Linked DNA regions of Homo sapiens: regions 1 and 2 are each reported to be linked to region 3. Evidence: microRNA targets listed by miRTarBase, many of them from high-throughput screens and not tested one by one. Region 3 holds a microRNA gene; each other region holds the end of a gene's coding sequence.

Region 1 (3,227 bases), not on the chromosome of region 3:
TTAATGTCATTTCAAAACATTCTTCATTTATATTTTATGACTGGCTAGGGTCCATTATCCAAGGATTATAAAAGATGTTTGGAACCCAGCCAAGGGAGGCCAGGCAGCAAGCTGAAGTATAATGCATCTGTCCTAAACTCAGACTGGCCACAACCAAAACAGCTCTATAGGGACTCAGAAGTGCAGGCTGTAATATTACAAAATGGCAAAGACAATGAGATTCTCTATTCCGTTAATTATTACAAAATGGCAAAGACAATGAGATTCTCTATTCCGTACTGTATATGCCTTACTTTTGCGTTACCAGTTTAATGTAATATAATATGAAATACCTTGTTGCCTCTTGAACCTTACCACGAAAGTGTTCCTTTGAGCCTTAAGAATAAACCAGCTGGCTGGGCGCGGTGGCTCACGCCAGTAATCCCAGCACTTTGGGAGACTGAGGTGGGCAGATCACCTGAGGTTGGGAGTTTGAGACTAGCCTGACCAACATGGAGAAACCCCATCTCTACTTAAAATACAAAAAATTAGCCAGGTGTGGTGGCACATGCCTGTAATCACAGCTACTCAGGAGGGTGAGGCAGGAGAATTGCTTGAACCTGGGAGGTGGAGGTTGTGGTGAGCCAAGATCATGCCATTGCACTCCAGCCTGGGCAACAAAAGCGAAACTCTGTCTCAAAAAATAAAATAAAATAAAATAAACCAGCTCTGGCCAGGCACAGTGGCTCAGACCTGTAATCCTAGCACTTTGGGAGGCTGAGGTGGGCAGATCACCTGAGGTTAGGAGTTCAAGACCAGCCTGGCCAACATGTGAAACCTTGTCTCTACTAAAAATACAAAAAAGTAGCCGGGCGTAGTGGCGGGCGCCTGTAGTCCCAGCTACTTGGGAGGCTGAGGCAGGAGAATGGCGTGAACCCGGGAGGTGGAGCTTGCAGTGAGCCGAGGTCCCGCCACTGCACTCCAGCCTGGGCGACAGAGCGAGACTCCATCTCAAAAAAAAAAAAAAAAAAAAAAAAATAATAATAATAATAATAATAATAATTGCCCTCTCAGAGTGGTTTTGTAACTACTACTACTACCATTTACTATCCATTAAAGCAGGATAGTTTTAATTCCACAGAAAAGCCAATAAGCAGAAATGTGTCACGCTCCCTTTGTTTCTCTTAAGATTTCTGACCCTACCAGCCCTGAAGGAGATTACCTCAAAGTAAGAACTTGACACATTCGAGGCCAGGCACGGTGGCTCACGCCTGTAATCCCAGCACTTTGGGAGGCTGAGGCGGGTGGATCACGAGGTCAGGAGATCGAGACCATCCTGGCTAACATGGTGAAACCCTGTGTCTACTGAAAATACAAAAAATTAGCTGGGTGTGGTGGCGGGTGCCTATAGTCCCAGCTACTCGGGAGGCTGAGGCAGGAGAATGGCTTGAACCTGGGAGGCAGAGCTTGCAGTGAGTGGAGATCGTGCCACTGCACTCTAGCCTGGGCAACAGAGAGAGACTCCGTCTCAAAAAAAAAGAAAAAAAAGAACTTGACATGTTCAAGAAAATTATGACTACAGGGAAGATTCTGCAGTAAATGCTAGTGGAATGGGACAGGAAAAAGATGAGACCCAGATCAAGCACTTCCTCTTGAGAAATACAGATACCTCTTTCAGGTGTAAATTGCAGGCATTCTGCTAGCCATTCAATGTCTTTGATATCTCAGGCCCGTCAAGGACCAATCTTTTGTTTTTTGAGACAGAGTCTCACTCTGTTGCCCAGGCTGGAGTGCAGTGGCACGATCTTGGCTCACTGCAACCTCCACCTCCCGGGTTCAAGCCTCTACACCCAGCTATAGGAGTGCGCCACCACACCCAACTAATTTTTGTATTTTTAGTAGAGACAGGATTTCATCATGTTGGCCCGGCTGATCTCCAACTCCTGACCTCAGGTGATCTGCCAGCCTCAGCCTCCCAAAGTGCTGGGATTACAGGCATGAGCCACCGCACCTGACCAAGGACTAATCTTGATGCTTAATTAGCACCACTCCACTTGGTCCCTTTATCCACATCAGGCACAATAAACCAAGAGGGGCTGTTATAAACACTTATTCAATGGGCTGAATTGGACCTGTAACACTAAACAGCAGCCTAGACCTTCACTGTGGAAACAGAAATAACTAATGCCAATTTCTTTTCAACTTGGACACTGACTTGAAGCTCAAATGCTAATTTCTGCGAAAAAACACAACCAAAGAAAGTAACTCTCAGCTCATGACCAATCTAAATTTAAGTTATTTATTTAAGCCATCTCCTGCCACAAGCAAAGGGATGGGAGACCAGTATACCAGTCATCATTTGATACAAGTAAAGAAGGTGAGCTTAAGGTCCCATATACTTTTTCTGGTCCATGTGCAGAGTAACGGTCCAAACCAGTGCTGTGGTCCCTGGTGCCCGGGTAGTGGTCCAGATTCTCTTTATTCATCTTCGTAGCCAGTTGGAAGTGGATTCACATGAGGGTTATGGAATAGAGTATGGTTACCATCTCCCCAGGGAAACGGCTGTGGAGTGAAGATGTCAGTTAGATAATTCCAGAAAATAATTTAGAAAGAACACCGTCATGAACTGCTTATAACGGGGTGACAGATCATATATAAAAACAAAATGGAAATTAGTCCTTTATCTACTGGTGTAGTTCAACCTTCCCATTATTTAAGGAGCTCTTATAACTACCAGGGGAGCCCTTAAAGTTATCCTGGCTACAGGACAGTTTTAATTCCAGAAACAAATATGGATGGCAGAAAATGCAAGCTCAAGTTAGTTACTCATCATCCTCTCCCTAGTAACTAGTATATCCAGTGCTGTGTTTATGAAAGTGTAATCCTCAAATCACCTATATCAAAATGGTGGCAGTATTAGGGGAGGGAGATGCTTAATTAAATGCAGATTTCTGGCACCATCCCAGACTTCAAACAATATCTGGGCTGGGAAACTGCAGCCCACCCTGAATTATCTTGCCTATTACCTTTGAAAAGCATTACTTTAGGGCAACGGTCTCCAACCCAGGGTGATTTTGCCCCTTCAGGGCACACTGGGTAGTATCGGGAGACACTGTGATGGGGGCGGGGGAGGGGGAAGCGGGAGTGGGGTTGCGCAGGTACTACTGCCACCTAGTGGGTACAGGCCAAGGATATGGCTAAACATTTCACAATGCACAAGATAGCCCCCCAACAAGAATTACCCAGCC
Region 2 (3,215 bases), not on the chromosome of region 3:
ATATTCAGCTGCAACTGTCCCTGAAGAAGAGGTTTCTGAGCTGGCTGACCCCATGTAGGAGGGTGTTACCTTGTAGAAAAAGCTGGAGGGACCTGGTGGGACAGTGCAGTGAGGCAGGGTAGAAATGGTCAGTTGTTTAGGGCCAGTGGCCACATACCAAAATACCACCAATGTGCCCAGGGCCAAACTGCCTTAATTCTGAGTGCTGTGTGTTCTGCAGGTGACAGTTTCCTGAGGAGAGGGGTGTATCCAGGCTTACCTCCCAGCAGGAGTGGTACCATATGGTGTTTATGTACTACTCTATAGAACTCTTGGCTTGCACTTCTACAGCTCTGTACATTTATAAGAATAAATGCAATCACACTAGTTGAGCTGTGTCTGTGTTGCAGTGGATTTTAAAGGCCTTGGCCAGGCACAATGGCTCATGCTTGTAATCCCAGCACTTTCAGAGGCTGAGGCAAGCAAATCACAAGGTCAGGAGTTTGAGACCAACCTGACCTTACCTGGAATTGTAGATCCTGTCACCCCGTCTCTACTGAAACCCCGTCTCTACTAAAAATACAAAAACTTAGCTGGGTGTGGTGGCAGGCGCCTGTAGTCCCAGCTACTCAGGAGCTGAGGCAGAAGAATCGCTTGAACCCAGTGGGCGGAGGTTGCAGTGAGCTATCGCGCCACTGCACTCCAGCCCGGGAGACAGTGCGAGACTCCGTCTCAAAAAAATAAAAGTTAAGAATATCCTGGATATCCTGAAATGAAGAAATAGCTTAACAGCTGACTACAGCAATTCCTTCTGGAAACTCCCTCCCCTTTCTGCTGTTCCCACTGGGCATCACTTTCGGGCCTGTTTCACTGGACGGCATGAGTGAAATAGGCTCTTGCAAGTCACTTCTGTAGAATGGGTTCCCTTTAGCAGACCTTTTCTTTCCAGCTCATCTTTATTGTTTTTTAGCTGAAGAAAATTTGGAGGCAAGAAAACCCAGGAGATTTTTGAAGGTGGTTTCCTGGAACTCCATTGTATAGGGACTCTAGTGTGGGCAGAAGCCCAGAAAGATTCTTTTGCATGAATTTAAACCTTTATCCCACAGGAAGGAGCCAGTGGACTAAGTGATTAGTCTGTGGTGACAGGATCTACGATTGCAGGTCAGAAACCTCAGCAGCAGCAGACAGCCGACAGCCTCTTGCAGGTGTGTGCCACCCCTGGAGCAGGGCATCAGGAGATTCCCTCCTTCACACTTCCTGCCCGTTTAGGAAAGCTAACTGGGCTTCTCCTCGCCATGAAAATTGTCTAATTCGGTTCCTGAGTCCCTGTAATCTGCAACAGTTGAGTATGTTGTAGAGAAGTGGTTGACAGTCAATGGTTTCAGTTTTGCAGGCCGTACAGTCTAGTGCAACTCTTCAACTTTGCCACTGTGGCTTGAAAGCAGCCAGACAGTATGGAAATGAACAGGTATGGCCAGAACTGGCCTGCCAGCCTGGTTTGCGGACCCCTCCTCTAGGGCCAGTTGAAAAACAGGAGCCGGGCCAGGCGTGGTGGCTCACGCCTGTAATCCCAGCACTTTGGGAGGCTGAGGTGGGCGGATCACGAGGTCAGAAGATCGAGACCATCCTGGCTAACACAGTGAAACCCCATCTCTACTAAAAATACCAAAAAAATTGGCTGGGCGTGGTGGTGGGCGCCTGTGGTCCCAGCTACTTGGGAGGCTGAGGCAGAAGAGTGGCGTGAACCCGGGAGGCGGAGCTTGCAATGAGCCGAGATCGTGCCACTGCACTCCAGCCTGGGCTACAGACCGAGACTCCGTCTCAAAAAAAAAAAAAAGAGAAAAACAGGAGCGAAGAGTCTTGCACTGGTGACTGGTGTATCCTTTGAGTCACCTTCTCTGTAGGGCTGCTTGCAAGCTGTGCCTCTGGGCAGACCCAAGGCCTGCTTGCAAGCTGTGCCTGTGAGGCCAAAGCTGGCTTCCTCTCCCACTCCTTCCCATACCGGTGTTCTGGAGTGTAGCCTGCTCACTCCCCCGAGAAGCTGTATGAAATAGGAATAAAGCAAAAACTGGGGCATCATGTAGGGAGGGCTCTTTTGGCCCACTTTAGGAACAGGTACCCCAAAGGCTGAGTGCTCATTACCCCACAGCCTCAACACAAGTGATCTTTAATTGCTTTGACAGAACAAGGGTGTAAACAGCGTTAGTCTACAGGCCTACCCTTTCCCTTTCCTCCTCTGCAGCTGAGGAAATGGGCAGTCCCATCGCTAGAACCCTGTTCTTAGAAATTACCTGGTCTCTTGCTCTGACAGATGCTGAGCTAATGCTGGGTCACATATTTAACAGCTAGCCTAAAGCCATAGGCTGGAACAGAGTTGGCAAGAGCCTGGCTCAGGTGTAGCGAGGAGTAGAGAGGGAAGACAAAGGGAGTATCAGACCCCTCACACGGGCCTCTCCTCCCCAAAGATGGTTCCACCTGGGTGTGTTCAGGAGTCACTACCTTCACGCTCCCTCCTCCCCCACCCCAGCTCTTCCAGGGTATACCTAAGGGGTCCAGAGCAAGGAAGGGGGCTTGAGCTGGGCCCGAGGAGGTGAGGTTGGCTGGAATTTAGGGTGGCTGGCAGAGGAGAGCTGGGGAGGCTGCAGCCTTTACAGCAGACAGCAGGCACGGAATATCAGCAGGTCCTTCGGCTCAGTAAGCTTCAGTGAGACACTCTCATTGGCCCCAATGAAGAGCACGCCACCACGTTGCAGAGGGATTGGTGTCTGGGTTGTGGGTGTGCTGGCTATTACTGTCCCCTGTACCATCAGGAGGATGCTGGCAGAGTCCAGTGCCAAGACCTTGTATTCAGTGACAGAGCCAGGGACCTGGGCAGGAAGAAATGATAAGGCAGTGCAGCTCAGACTCTGCTCTCATCAGCTCATGGGCCCAGGACAGTCCCCAGGGCACGAGGGAGAGCTCTGCCACCTTCTCGCACAACCCAGGCTCAGTCAGCATAGAGGCCTGGTCCCTGGTACAGGAAGGAATGGGCAGGCCCTGGGGCCACCCTCCGCCAAGTGGGCTTGACAGGAAACCCAGCCCCAGGTGTCCTCCACATCGTGACCCTTGCCAGAGATTTTCATGGCACACGAAGGACACCCATCATAGCCCCTCACTCACCTCCGTCTTCATAATGGTGAAGTCTGGTACAGGGGGGTCATAGATTGAGAGGTAGGGGTCTTCCTGACTCCGTGTTG
Region 3 (3,252 bases):
AGCCTGAGCCGTGACCAGAGGTCCGAGCCAGAGATGCAGCCTTGGGATCTCAGCCTGCGGCGCTGGCCCTGGGGCCACACTCAGCATGGGGGACGCCAGGCTGGAGCAGACGCCAGACCCAAACAGCCGCTCTGCCCCCGGGGACTTTGGCAAGGCTGCTGCCTACGTGAAATGATGGAAAGGTCTAGGCTGGCCCCAGGTCCTTTCTGGCATGGCCTCAGGATCTTGGCAGGAGGATAACAATGCCAGGAGGGGGTGGGCTGAGTCATGTGCCTCCTCTCAGGGGCCTGGCTGCAGTGGTCAGGGGCAGGGTGGCTCATTTTGCGGGCACCGGTGCCCTGCACCTGGAGGAGGACCAGCAACAGGACTAGCCAGGTGGCCGCAGGCCCTTAGGACACAGGGGAGGCCCAGGATTTATGGGAAGGAAGGAGCAGAGCACCTGAGTCTGGGGACATCTCGGGACAGGCACTGCCCCCAGCAGCCTCAGCTTCCCCCCATAAAAGGGACAGACGCTGCCCCATGCCTTTAGCTCCATCACTGTCCAGGGACAGGGACTAAACCCTAGACCCCTCATCCCCAAGGAGTCTTGGACTGCAGGTCCAGCTCTGCAGAGGGGCTGCAGGGAGCATCCAGGGCCCATACTCGTCTGCTCATCTCTCAGTCTCTGTGTTTATGGAACACCAGGGGATGCCAGTGCTGTGCCAGGAGGGGCGGTCGGTGCTGAGTGAGGCCTGCTTCCCAAATCAGGCACATTCTTATGAGACTAAGATTTGTCCCTGCTCATGGACATTAAAAAAATGTCAAAGACAGCAGGATTAAGCGGAATCACAGTGTCCTGCCCCCAGTCCCTAACAGAATAGAAAGGAAAAACTAGAAAAATAATCCCAGCAGAAAACAAACAAGGCCATACACTTTGAAAATTTGTAGCCAAAGACCAGGTGTAGTGGCTCACGCCTGTAATCCCAACACTTTGGGAGGCTGAGGCGGGAGGATCACTTGAGCCCAGGAAATTGGGGCTGCAGTGAGCTCTGATTGCGCCACTGCACTCCATCCAGCCTGTGTGGCACTGTGAGACCCCATCTCAAAAAAAAAGAAAGAAAAATTAGTAGCCAATAAAATAAGCAAAAGATTTCAGAGTAGAGCAGAAGGCAGATTCGTGTGGCTCTGACCTGCCACCAAGCCTGAGTCCCACTGGTACACAAGCGGAGCCCCAGGCCGCCTCTGTGCTTGGGATCTGGAGACAGGGAGTCTTGCAATGCCTCTGGCAGACATGGGAAGATAACTGTGAGTTGAAACTCTCCGTAAGAAGTGGAGGCTCCAGGGATGCGTTGGCCTGTGGGCATGGCCTGAGACCAGGACTGGATGCACCACTCTCCCTGTGATGAGGTGAAGCCAGCTCTGGTCTGGGCCATTTCACAGGATTCCAGAAGCAGGAGCAGAGCCTCAGCATTTGAACGAACCTTCTTCCACTTCGGCTGAGCTCCTCCTGCCACCACCATCCTTGCAGGCTTCCCGAAGGTGGCCTGAACACAAACTGCCTGGGCTTCCTGTGGCTAAGAGGGGAAGACGAGCCTTTGCCAGGTTTTGTGGAAAGAGTTAAAACCCCTCCAGTGCTGTGTTAAAACATATGAGGACCCAGTCAGAGCTGCTCGGGCTTGAAGAGAATGGAAAGGCAGGGAAGGGGAGGGCAAGTGACAGGCAAACGTCCCACAGAGAAACCCGTGACTCAGTGCTGGAGAAGGGACCACAGCATGCGCAAGATAAACATGCGGAAGGCAGAGGACGCACAGCTCGTGAACAGAAAAAAAAAATATTCCTGTGCTTTGCCTAAGAGAACAGTTTGATAAGAACATGAATTCAATAAAATAAATGTCAACAACGTATAAGACTAAGAAATGAAAATAAGATGTCAGACCTCAGGAAGCAAACAGAACCGAAACAGTGTCAGAACCAAACCAATACATTTCAAACAGCAACAAACGACATAGCAAGGCTGAAATTGCTATTGACAGAAATCCATCGTTCTCCAAGTGTGGCTCCTGGACCAGCGGCCCCAGCCTCCACCTGGGAGCTTGTCGGAAATGCAGGTGTCTAGGCTGCACCCAGGCCTGCTGGCTCAGGCGCCCTGGTGGGTGGGCCCCAGCAGCATCTGTGTTTAGCAAGGTGATTGCAGCGCACACTACCGCGTGAACACCGCTGCCCTAGAGGAAAGGCTGAAGACAGCCACAGTAAGTAAAGGTAAACGTGGTAGAGGGATGAAAACTGTTGTGAACTTTGTATATGTAAAACTAATTTATAGGAAGGTGGACAAAGGCAGTCCGGCAAAAGAATCACTGGTGTTCAGACCAAAGTGATTCCAAGTGAAATAGTTTGTGCACACATGGTGTGATCTTTCAATATGCAGAATCCATTTGTTTTTCTCATTTCAGAGGATTTTAAAATCTAAGGTCCATACTGTTTTGGTGCAGAAAATTCACTAGTTTTACTTTCATTTGCTTATGTTGAAAACTGATATTAAAATAAATTAAATGTAATTTAAAATAGCATTGATAGATCCCATTTCATGAAAGCATACCTGTGTTTCTGTTGATATACAGGCATAAAAATATCAGGATGTTGTTCACTGATGTAGATGGTTTTTCTGAAGAGAGGAATTTGGAATTTTTTTTCCTTTCTTCCTTGAACCTTTTTTTCTTTTTTTTTTTTTGAGACAGAGTCTTACTCTGTTGCCCAGGCTGGAGTGCAGTGGTGCGATCTTGGCTCCCTGCAAGCTCCGCCTCTCAGGTTCAATCATTTTCCCACCTCAGCCTCCTGAGAAGCTGGGATTACAAACGTGCGCCATCATGCCCAGCTAATTTTTGTATTTTTAGTAGAGATGGAGTTTTACCATATTGGCCAGTCTGGTCTCCAACTCCCGACCTCAGGTGATCTGCCCGCCTTGGCCTTCCAAAGTGCTGGGATTATAGGTGTGAGCCACCACGTCCTTGAACTTTGTCGTTTTGATGTCGAGGAAGGAACCTCTGACACCGAGGGTGGAACAGCCGCAGTTCTGTGCCCCCGGTGCATTCACATCATCGGGCGTGGGAAGTGTCTGTCCCTGTTTGTGAAGATACTTTACCCTATGTGCCACTCCCATTGCCCTTGTCCAGGGAGGCCAGCATTCCCTGTGCTTGAGAGATCTTTTTGTTTGCATATGTTCTGACATAATGTGTTGTTTCGTGTGTTTGCATTTTTAAGGAACGTAAATGGTTA

What was found. The annotated mature microRNA hsa-miR-4786-5p reads UGAGACCAGGACUGGAUGCACC and lies in region 3 at 1,348-1,369, shown strand. An mRNA with a match to its seed (bases 2 to 7 or 8) in the 3' UTR can be bound and repressed. Matches are read on the target gene's strand: a 7mer-m8 pairs with bases 2 to 8, a 7mer-A1 pairs with bases 2 to 7 and ends in A, and an 8mer does both.
Region 1: the mRNA of COX6A1 is a reported target of hsa-miR-4786-5p. Seed matches in the 3' UTR shown: 7mer-m8 at 2,316-2,322.
Region 2: the mRNA of MPI is a reported target of hsa-miR-4786-5p. Seed matches in the 3' UTR shown: 7mer-m8 at 1,598-1,604 and 8mer at 484-491.

What each region holds. Positions count from the first base shown.
Region 1 is chr12:120,439,768-120,442,994 of GRCh38, reverse strand. COX6A1 (cytochrome c oxidase subunit 6A1) reads right to left here. Exons shown (of 3, transcript NM_004373.4): 3 at 2,265-2,541. The coding sequence ends at 2,458. Among named protein-coding and RNA genes, the nearest start is that of COX6A1, 3.3 kb to the right of the region's middle.
Region 2 is chr15:74,897,143-74,900,357 of GRCh38, reverse strand. It overlaps MPI (mannose phosphate isomerase), which reads right to left. Exons shown (of 8, transcript NM_002435.3): 7 at 3,139-3,215; 8 at 1-2,846. The coding sequence ends at 2,628. FAM219B (family with sequence similarity 219 member B) reads left to right here. Exons shown (of 5, transcript NM_020447.5): 5 at 1-366. Among named protein-coding and RNA genes, the nearest start is that of FAM219B, 8.1 kb to the left of the region's middle. RefSeq lists an enhancer at 1,147-1,646.
Region 3 is chr2:239,941,180-239,944,431 of GRCh38, reverse strand. MIR4786 (microRNA 4786) reads left to right here and starts at 1,338; the gene lies at 1,338-1,417. It also overlaps a transcript of NDUFA10 not described here.